2 separate regions of the Homo sapiens genome follow, and region 1 is linked to region 2. Evidence: fine-mapped expression QTL. Tissue or cell type: whole blood. Region 2 holds a variant in brackets; the other region holds the start of a gene. All regions are shown on one strand. Distances are from middle to middle.

What was found. PIP is the estimated chance that this variant, and not a neighbour inherited with it, causes the effect.
Region 1: it holds the start of ZNF776, and the variant in region 2 is fine-mapped to the expression of ZNF776 in whole blood (INTERVAL, PIP above 0.99).

What each region holds. Positions count from the first base shown.
Region 1 is chr19:57,743,823-57,749,587 of GRCh38, forward strand. ZNF776 (zinc finger protein 776) reads left to right here and starts at 2,993. Exons shown (of 3, transcript NM_173632.4): 1 at 2,993-3,269. The coding sequence starts at 3,237. RefSeq lists an enhancer at 3,005-3,054.
Region 2 is chr19:57,778,469-57,784,233 of GRCh38, forward strand. It overlaps ZNF586 (zinc finger protein 586), which reads left to right. Exons shown (of 3, transcript NM_017652.4): 3 at 283-2,148. The coding sequence ends at 1,328. Among named protein-coding and RNA genes, the nearest start is that of ZNF586, 12 kb to the left of the region's middle. The variant C/CAA (reference allele first, on the strand shown) is at 3,244.

The sequences.
Region 1 (5,765 bases), 35 kb before region 2:
AAAGTGCTGGGATTACAGGCATGAGCCACCGCGCCCGGCCGACAGGCTTCTTTATCCCATAAATATCTCTAAATCCCATCATCAAAGAGGCAGATTTGAGAACTGTTCTCCCACCTCTGCACTTGGCAGCCTTGTAAATACATGCTTTCTCTGCTGCAAGACTCATCATCTCAGTGATTGGCATACTGTGAGATGGACAGAACAGGCCTGGTTCTATATCAATAGTGTGGAGGAATTGTTTCATTTTATAGACCAGTATCGTCAGCTTCCTCAGGAACCTTTACTAACATGGATAGTGAGAATAACTAACTTAGGGGAAACATCTTTGGTTTTAAATAATGCAGAGTGGAAGAACATGTTTGGGTTGATGTAGTACCTACAGGTCACTCTTCAACAATTGCAGATAGGTATGTATCATCCACACACACAAGAGTTTATTCCTGAAGGAACAGCCAGCCTGGGTGGGTGTATAAAAGCTACTCTGAAGTCTGTCTACTCGGAAAAGCGGGACTGTCTGACTCCCCCTATAAATGCCAAGTGGGGCTCCCCAGATGAACCAGCTTAATATGCTTCCCATGCAAGCCATGTGGAACTGGCATTATGATGATAGGAATATTTACCTACTGAATATGTTTATTACCCAGGTCATGGTAAATGTCTTGGTTTGGGGAACCCCATTTTCTTGGGCACCTTATGTAAACTTACTGCTGCAAAATTGAGCTATAGTCAGTCTTACCAAATTTGCTTCCTATTATGGGCCTTTCAGATGCTAATAAAACCATTAGATTAATTAATAAGATAGACAATGATGAAAGGTACAGGGGAGAGTCAAACAGCTCCTTCCAGGAAGGTAGAAATTTTTAAATAGTTATAAAGAAATAAGACAAATAAAGAAAACATGGATAGGAATGAAACTAAGAGGAAAAAGAAAAGGGGGAAATCATGATACTCATCCCAGCATGGTGGAAATCTTTAGATGGCTATTAGATGGAAATTAGATGAATAAAATAAAAACTGATCGGATTAAAACAAAATTCTGAATATAACACTATTGAAGGTTGGGTGGACCAAAGGAAGTTCCTGTTGATCCCCCAACATTAAAGGGCCTTAAGCTAAGTTGCTGTAGTTCCTGAAGTTTGGATAAATTTTAAAAGCCAGAAGGTAAAGATATAATGAGAAACCCCACCTGGAATGCCTAGGGTGATGGTTAGACTGGTTAATCAAGGTAGCACTTGGAAAAAAGGCCAAAGTCTCCTGGCCTGAACCCTGGGTGGAAACCTGAAGACATCTGCACAAGAAAGGGTAAAATGGTCTGGAGAGAAGAGTCCTGGGACTACAACATAAAGTAAAAGTTGACAGGACTATGAAAGTTGGAATGTTAAACATGCTTTTTTTTTTTTAAGTTGTACTACCAATAAACTGAGTTCTTTCCCTACTTTGTATTGGTCACAAAAAAAAGAACACCCAATTTGGGAAAAAAAAAAAAAAAGGCAAGCAAGTTTTATTTCTGAGCAGAAATGGAGAATGAGTAAGCTCTTGCTCTAAATGCCTCTTCTCCCTGAACATAGAAGACATAGGTTTTTTAAGAACTGAGCGGCTGGGTACAGTGGCTCATGCCTTTAATCCCAGCACTTTGGGAGGCCGAGACAGGTGGATCACCTGAGGTTGAGAGTTCGAGACCAGCCTGACCAACATGGAGAAACCCCGTCTCTACTAAAAATACAAAATTAGCCAGGTATGGTGGCTCATGCCTGTAATCCCATCCATAACATTAATTTATTAGGCAAAACACTCCTTGCCATGGAAACAGAAATAAAGAATAGTCACAAAAAAAAAAAAAGAAAAGAAATAAATAAAGTCTGTTTTATCTAATACAAAAAAAAAAAAATAGCCACTTCCCAGCAATAACATGAACTCCTGGATTTAAGACACAACCAATATCAACAGGTGGAGAGCATCTTCTGCATACGTGCCCCACCTTTGAAAACTGCAGCCATTTATCACTACCAAAATAGCATTTCTTTCATTGGTCTTCCTGTAAGATTGATAAATCTTAGATAAATTAATCCAGAATTAATTGAATATAAGTTGGAATCTCAAGCGAGGGATACTAAGTGGATAAAAGTGTTGCTCAATGTACTGGACACTATGATTGATTTTATAGGCAGGAGAGTTGTCTTCTGTGGGAATCACAGACAGAGATTCAGCATGTATTCCTGCTTTAGGGAACACAACATTTCTCCTCTATCTTCCTTGTCTTGTCCTATCTGGATTAGTTCTCTCTTGTCCCTGACAGACTGAGAAACTGACTCTAATGCCTCAGAGTGCATTCATGTGAATTTATAACACAATAATGTTTATCAGCCTCTGCTGCCAGTACCGGGATTTTGCGACTGAAAGACTGTTCAAAACGTTATGATAATTTGGATTTTTAGTCTTTGGGGGCATCCTAAATAATAAGTTTAGCATCGGAGAGCTCGAGTTCCCCAAAATCTAAAATAATATTTTTTCAAATACTTGAGTGATCAGTTACAGACACTAATCTCCAAAAATCTCAATACGGGTTCTAAGGCTAGGTGAGACTATCCTCTACCCTAGAAGGACATGCACTTTAAGGACAGGCCGCTGAGATGGAGCTGGGCCTTTCCTGCAAGTAAGTGAACGTGATGGTAGGGTATACCTGACAGCATAGTTTGACAGGGGATATAGACTTTCAAGGAGAAAATAGACATGAAATAGATACATGCAGAAGTATAGTCAAATTGAGGGAAGATGACACTTAGGCCAGAGTAGTGTTTATTCACCACTCTGTGCAATCAAGCGCCTCTGAGAAGGCCTTCTTTACCGCCTTGGAACTGTCTTGGAACCTGAGGAAACTACATAACCCAGAAATCTCTGCGTCGAATGACAGCGCGTCAGAGCCAATGAGGGCTCAAAATAAAGGCGTTTCCGCGGAAACAGTATAAAGGTGGGACTTCCGGCGTCCTCTACTAGTGGCCATTTTGATTGGTGTTGGGTGTATTTTCCAGTGAGAGACCGCGGAGTGTTGGGTCGTGTAGAAGTGACTGAACCCAGAAGGTGGAGACGAGACGTTGTCCCGACTGCACAGAGGCTGCTCTGCAGCTCCTTAAAGGCGCTAGGCGTGACCCGCACCAAGGCCGGGATCGGGACCACCGTGCCCGGGTACCTGCACTGCTCGCCCCCTCCTTTCGACCCCGCTTTCCCCACCCAGTCGGATGGCGGCGGCCGCGCTGAGGCCCCCGGCTCAGGTAATTGTGGCGTCTTCCGTGCCCTCAGGTCACCTCATCTTTACCTAAGTCCAAAAGCAGAGAGGAAGCGGCGCCTGCTCAAGGTTTTACACCCTGAACCCGGCGTCGGGACACTGAGGCGCTCTCTATGGGCCCCCGTTTTTGACACCCGCGGGATGCGCTCAGGAGAGCTACAGGCACAGGGAGCGGTGCAGGCAAAGGCCTGGAGATGAACTGAGCCGAGAGGATCGTAACCTAGGGTCCACAGGCACCTGTCGGGAGCAAAGTGTGAGGCAGAGCTCCTCCTGGAAGAGCAGGCTGAGGACCGTGTATTCACCCTGAGAACGCTGGAAGCCATGGACAGCTTCCAACAAAGGAAGGAAAAGATCAATGTCCAGGCTTTAAAGGTTTCCCAAAGTCCAGTCGAAAAAGAACACAGGGGATGACTTTTGGGCCCTGGGAGGTTGAATTCTTGTTCAACCTCTACAGATCAGATAGGTGCTAAGAGATGACATTTTGTACTGAGGCGCTCAGTTCAGACAACCAACTCGCGTTTACCTAGTTACAGGGCCAAGAAAGAGTTCAGGGAGGCCTGAGCTTATCAAATCTCATCAGGGATACATTCTTGTAGCTTGTGCCTCTCCTCTCAGGAACTCCTGGCTGCAGAAGCACTTGCAGAACCTCCGCAGGGAAGCGGAGGGTGTTATTCCCTCACTGGCCCTAACTCCTATCCACATGCTCTTTAGATTGGGATGTCCTGGGATTCTTAGGTACCTTTTTTTTTTTTTTTTTAAGTTTTTTGATATGGGAACCCTGGAGGAACCTTAAACCCAGGATCCAAAGTCTGTGACACAGGATATATGGAGGTATTCCCATTTCTGTCAACCAGTATAAACATACTTGGAAGGTTAACCCAGGAGTTAGTACCAGGATGTGAAATGCTTAGAGGTGAAACTGACCAGAGGGAGGAGGTGATGTTGCCACAGTTTCATCTGGCTGTAGTCTCCTCTGGCTGTACAGTGGAGAACAGACTGTGGGGTTGAGAGAGGAGGAAATAAGATGAGAGTTGAGGCTTTTGCCGTAATCCAAGTGAGGGTTAACAGACTAAGATTCATGGCTAAGGAGATGTGGCTGGATTCAAAGTTGATATTTTGTTACAGCATCTAGGTTTCCTAATACACAAAGTAAGGGCATGAAGAGAGCAATCAGGATCCCGAGGTTTTTGGTCTTAGTAGCTGTAGCTATGGAAGCTGCATCAGCTGAGATGAGCATGTTGGTAATAAACATAATTAGAATATTATGCAAATATCAGGATGACTGTTATGGCCATATGAAGAGTCAGAGACGAATAAGTGTAGGCATCAAATGGCTATGGACATGCAGGTTGGGGTATCTGGAAAGGGATTGACACTGGAGACATCTAATATATGGTAGCTAATGTGTATGCTATGGTGAGTGAGCCATGGGTCACATTAAGGAGAACACACTTCAGATTCTGGTGGTAAATCTTTTAGGGGACCAGAAAGCAGTGGTTGAATGATGAGGACTGCATCTGTTGCTTGGGTCCCTGGGTAATGTTACTGGGCTTCCTAAACACTGGAGAGGTAGGTAAGTGACCATGATGGTAGGGTATACCTGTCAGCATAATTTGACAGGGGACATAGACTTTCAAGGAGAGAATAGACATGAAATAGATATATGCAGAAGTGTAGTCAAATTGAGGGAAGATGACACTTAGGCCAGAGTGGTACTTATTCACCACTCTGTGCAATCAAGATTTGAGATGACTTTGGTAGTGTGTGGGGGGTTTCATTACACGTGCTGAATATGCTCAGGGAGAAATATGGTCATCTGTGACAGTAGGTCTTGGGCCTTAAATGGATTAAAAACAGGACTTTTTTTTTTTTTGAGACGGTGTCTCACTCTGTCGCCCAGGCTGGTGTACTGGTGTATAGTGGCGCAATCTTGGCTCATTACAACCTCCACCTCCCAGGTTCAAGTGATTCTCCTGCCTCAGCCTCCCGGTAGCTGAGAATACAGTTGCGTGCCACCACGCCCCACTAATTTTTTTTTGTATTTTTAGTAGAGATGTGATTTCACCATATTGGCCAGGCTGGTCTCGAACTCCTGACCTCATGATCCACCTGCCTCAGCCTCCCAAAGTGCTAGGATTACAGGTGTGAACCACCATGCCCATCCAGGACTGCTCTTTAAATGGCAATGGTATTAGGTGAATGGAAGTTGGTCCGTGTTGCTGAAGGGTAAGCCATTGTAGCACAGAAGTGGAATAAGACCATGGATATCTGAAGTTACATGTGGTTTTGCATGGATGTGGAGTAATGCAAGGAGGCATTCATAGAATTATTAGGGACTACCACTGCTAATGGGAACCATGGTCATTTTGTGTTATTATTGGATCCTGTTTGAATATGTGAAGCATATTGGATGCTGTCAGCCATATTGTGGTATAAAGCCAAAAATGGAGGCCCAATATGATGTGTCACCTTGACATCTAGT
Region 2 (5,765 bases):
GTCATCAGCAAATAAGGTTCCACAGGCAAGTTGTTTGCAAATGAAGGAGTTATAGACCCTGCCTTTATTCTGTCTGTTGACTCATTTAGTCATGCCCTTGACAATATGAGGCCTTCTATATCTGTGATAATGCTAAGCAGCCCCAACCTCAACCTGAACCCAACTCCCTGTTTGTGCAAATAATTCCATAGACTAGTTTTTTGGTTTGTCAGATACTCTTGTGGGTAGGCTGCATACTCAACAAAGTCAACATGTACCTCACCAGCATTTCTTTGCTTTTAGGTTGTTGGCATGGAGGGGAAGATGAGGCAGCACCTTCTAAGCAGAGCACGTGTATACATATATACAAAGACCAGGGAGGTCATAGTGGAGAAAGGCCTTATGAGTGTGGGGAATATAGGAAATTATTTAAGAACAAGTCCTGCCTCACTGAACCCAGAAGAGATCACAAACACAGGAATGTTCGCACTGGAGAAAGGCCTTATGAGTGCAGCAAATATGGGAAATTATTTCACCAAAAGCCTACACTCCATATTCATGAGAGATTTCATACTGGGCAAAAGACCTATGAGTGCAGTGAGTGTGGAAAATCATTTCACCAAAGCTCTTCACTCTTGCAGCGTCAGACACTTCACACTAGAGAAAGGCCTTATGAGTGTATTGAATGTGGGAAAGCCTTTGCTGAAAAGTCCAGTCTCATTAACCACAGGAAAGTTCACTCTGGAGCAAAGCGTTATGAATGCAATGAATGTGGGAAGTCCTTTGCTTATACATCTAGTCTCATTAAACACAGGAGGATTCACACTGGAGAGAGGCCTTATGAGTGCAGTGAATGTGGGAGATCCTTTGCTGAAAACTCCAGTCTTATTAAACACTTGAGAGTTCACACAGGAGAAAGGCCTTATGAATGCGTTGAGTGTGGAAAATCATTTCGCCGAAGCTCTTCACTCTTGCAGCATCAGAGAGTTCACACTAGAGAAAGGCCTTATGAATGTAGTGAATGTGGGAAATCCTTTAGCTTAAGGTCCAACCTCATTCACCATCAGCGAGTTCATACTGGAGAAAGGCATGAGTGCGGGCAGTGTGGGAAATCCTTTAGCCGAAAATCTAGCCTTATTATACATCTGAGAGTTCACACTGGAGAAAGGCCTTATGAGTGCAGTGACTGTGGGAAATCCTTTGCTGAAAACTCCAGCCTTATTAAACACTTGAGAGTTCACACTGGAGAAAGGCCATATGAATGCATTGATTGTGGAAAATCATTTCGCCACAGTTCTTCGTTCCGTCGCCATCAGAGAGTTCATACTGGAATGAGGCCTTATAAGTGAAGCAAATTTTGGAAATTCTCTTGCCCAGGCTTTTTGCTCCTTCAAGGCCAGAGAGTTCACACCAGATCAAGGTGTTATGAGTGTGACAAATGGGGAATATTCTTTAGCTAGAATGCTAGCTTCTTTACATAAAAGAGTGCTCCCACTGAAGAAGTGCCTTTTGAGTGCAATGAATGTGAGAAAGCCTTCAGCCCTCTCTCATTGGTTACCACAATATTTACATGAGGAAAATACCACAGATGTGGAGGTAATATTATTTTTTCTTCAATATAACACTGGAGGAAACCCCTTATGAGGATGCCATCTGCCTAAATTGAATGTCATACATCAAATAGCTGCATACATTCCAGGTATGTGGGAACTGCATAGTATTTTTCGACCTGCCCAGGTCTCTTGCTAGACTTCTGTGACTTACAGTTCTCTTCTAAAAAGCATTTCACCTTTACCACTTGGCAGGTGCCCACAGTACATCATTCGCCTAACTCATCATGATCCAGAAGTAACTTTGATTTTGTTTCATTCAACAGAGGGATTTTTTAGTATCCTCAGCACTCATTCTATTCTCATTTCTTTCTCTCCAATGAGTTAGGCCATGAACCTGACTCATTTTTGGCACAGAGGACTCTTCTGATAACTTGAAAAAATGGACTACCTTTTTCAGGGATCTTTTGGATCTCACAGAGTTCTTAAGATGGAATTTTCCAGCCTGCCAGTCATGAATCTCAGACAGCCTGCCACCTATTGCCCTGATTTGTGTTATAATAAAGGCCTTGTTGCTTAAGACACCTTCAGTCTTTGCAGGAGGGCATGGAAGCTCCAAGTGCTTTTCTCATACTTTACCCTATGCATCTCTTTATCTGCATCTTTTGTACTATTTATAATTAACCAGTAAGTTATTTTCCCTGAGTTTTATGTGCCATTCTATCAAATTAGTCAAATCCAGTTGTGGGGTCCACGGGATTTGTGGTTTATAGCTCATCAGTCAAAAGCAGAGGCTCTGGGGCTTTGATTGTCATCAGAAATGGGAGCCTCAGTCTTGGTGACTGAGTCCTCAAACTGGGGGATGTGATGCTATCTGCAGGTAGATAATGACTGAGTTGAACTGGAGGACCCCCAGCTTGTGTCCACGGGAGGATTGCTTGGTGTGTGTGGAAAACACCCTGCACATCTGGTCACAGAATTATTCCATATTGATTGTTGTTGTGTTGTGTGACAGACAATAGAGGAAAAGTTTATTTTTTTCTACACATACGCTATGGCTTCCCTTCTATTATTCCATATCTTTCAACTCCTGCCATACTATTTCTTTCTCTCCAAGTTTTTGTTCTTCCTCAGAGTTCCCATAAATGGAAAGGATACGCACTTCATTGAAATAAGAATTTCATGTTAGCCAAGTTTTCAGGATAGCCATGAGTTTCACTTAATTATCTGAGAACTTAGAGCTTACTGTCCTCTACTTACTATCCACTGAGACTTAATGTGTTCTTGGCCATCACAGAAACTTTACTAGCTACTTATGCCATTGTCAATGGATAACTCTCTGAATCCACATTAATAACTTTGTAATTAGCTTAGTCCTCAGCTGTTTTTCAGAGATAATCCCCAGTCTTCATGCAGACACTATCACTGCACCTACAGGTGAAATGATAATCACTTCCTAGCAAGGAGGTTGGATCATGGAATACAAGATAATTTCTCAGGAATCAGATGGTCTTATTCCACACCTGCAGGAATGTCAGCATTGCAACCACCATGGCAAATATTGATTTAATAAACAATTACTATTCCCAGATAAGTGTCAAAATCTTAGAAGAAATTGTCATATCTTAGACAATTTAGAAGTGATGGAGGGTGGATGATGAGAAATTATCGCACCACTGCACTCCAGCCTGGGCGACAGAGCAAGACTCTGTCT[C/CAA]AAAAAAAAAAAAAAAAAAAAAGCTTTACTCACATAAAGTGAAGAACAAGAAGACTTTTTTGAGTAGATGTTTAGTGTCCTTATAACATTTTTTGTATATGCATTTTTATCCTTTTGGGAACATGATTTACAAATGCGAGCTGCAGGGCTATTGCATTAACGTGTTGAATGCAAGAGTTAAAACTTCCTGTCCCATTTAGTGAATGGAAAAATACTTAAGTTACATGAATAAAAATTGTAAATTACAAATAGCAAGATAGTTAAGGATGTAAAACATGTCAATCCCTAAATGTTACTTAATGACATCATGTTTTATAGGTACATTTTATTTTCAGTTACTAGTATTTTATTCCCTTGCTGGAAAGATGTCCAGTGATTCTGAATCAATACAGGTGTGTGGGATGTCATCTAGAAGTCATAAAATGGCTTATTCAGATTAACCATGTTATGACCACTCACACTCGCTGATACATATCTTCCTGTCACTTCCGTGGAGAGTGAAATTTTCTCTTTTATTTTTTATTCTTTGAGACAGAGTTTCACTCTTGTTGCCCAGGCTGGGGTGCAATGGCGTGATCTCAGCTCACTGCAACCTCCACCTCCCAGGTTCAAGTCATTCTCCTGTCTCAGCCTCTAGAGTAGCTGGGATTACAGGTGCCCACCACCATGCCCGGATAATTTTTGTATCTTTAGTAGAGACGGGGTTTTGCTATGTTGGCCAGGCTGGTCTCAAACTCCTGACGTCAGATGATCCGCCTGCCTCAGCCTCCTAAAGTGCTGGGAGTACAAGCGTGCGCCACCACGCCCAACCAAAATTTTCTTGATAACACCCTAATTATATTCCCACAAAACCTTTGTAGTCAGAGAAAATCTGTAGTTTATAAAGACAAAGTTTTTAGTAATGAGAGCACTTTTAGGATCTGTAGGCTCTTGTCTGTATAATTAATACAACATTTCTTTTTTTTTTTTTTTTTTTTTTTTTTGAGACAAAGTTTTGCTCTTGTTGCCCAGGCTGGAGCGCAGTGGCACGATCTTGGCTCCCTGCAACCTCCGCCTCCTGGGTTCAAGCGATTCTCCTGCCTCGGCCTCCCGAGTAGCTGGGATTACAGTTGTCCACCACCACACCCAGCTAATTTTTTGTATATTTAGTAGAGACGAGGTTTCACCATGTTGACCAGGCTGGTCTTGAACTTCTGACCTCAGGTGATCCACCCGCCCCAGCCTCCCAAAGTGCTGGGATTACTGGCGTGAGCCACCGTGCCCGGCCTGTTCTGCTTATATATGACTAAAATTTATGTGAAAATTTCTGTATAAGGCCAGGCTTGGTGGCTCACGCCTGTAATCCCAGCACTTTGGGAGGCCAAGGTGGGTGGATCACCTGAGGTCAGGAGTTCGAGAACAGCCTGACCCACATGGAGAAACCCCATCTGTACTAAAAATACAAAATTAGCTGGGCTTGGTGGCGCATGCCTATAATCCCAGCTACTTGGGAAGGCTGAGGCAGGAGAATCGCTTGAACCTGGGAGGTGGAGTTTGCGGTGAGCCGAGATCACGCTGTTGCACTCCAGCCTGGGCAACAAGAGCAAAATTCCGTCTCAAAAAAAGAAAAAGAAAATTTCTGTACAAAATATTTAGATTTCCTTCCTATTCTCAATATATTAGTGTGCTTTATCATTCTAACTTTTTGGTATTTTGATTATGCTAGTAATTTCTTAGTTTTGTTCAATTTTAATGTGATATATAAATCAATATATTCCCTGATAAATTTTTACATAATTTATGTAAATTTGTTGTTGTTGGCCGGGCATGGTGGTTCACACCTGTAATCCCAGCACTTTGGGAGGCTGAGGCAGACAGATCATCTGAAGTCAGGAGTTTGAGACCAGCCTGGCCAACATGGCGAACCGTCTCTACTAAAAATAAAAAATTAGCCGGGTGTGGTGGCATGCACCTGCAGTCCCAGCTACTCGGGAGGCTGAGGCAGGAGAATTGCTTGAACCTGGGAGGTGGAGGTTGCAGTGAGCCAAGATGGCTCCACTGCACTCCAGCCTGGGTGATAGAGTGAAACTCCGTCTCAAAAAAATAAATAAATAAATAAATTTGTTGTAGTATATTTTCTCCTTGAATTACTTACTCTAAAACAAGTAACTTTACTAACCTCTACTTGGTCTACCTGGTTAATTAATTCTTTCTTTTTTTTTTTTCTTTTTTTTTTTTTTGAGACGGAGTCTCACTGTGGCCCAGGCTGAAGTGCAGTGGCACAATCTCAGCTCACTGCAACCTCTGCCTCCCAGGTTCAGGTGATTCTCCTACTTCAGCCTCCCGAGTAGCTGGGATTACAGGTGCCTGCCACCACGCCTGGCTAATTTTTCTATTTTTCGTAGAGATGAGGTTTCACCATTGTTGGCCAGGCTGGTCTTGAACTCCTGACCTCAGGTGATCCAGCCGCCTCGGCCTCCCAAAGTACTGGGATTACAGGCGTGAGCTACCATGCCCAGCCTAATTAATTATTTTTCAAATAT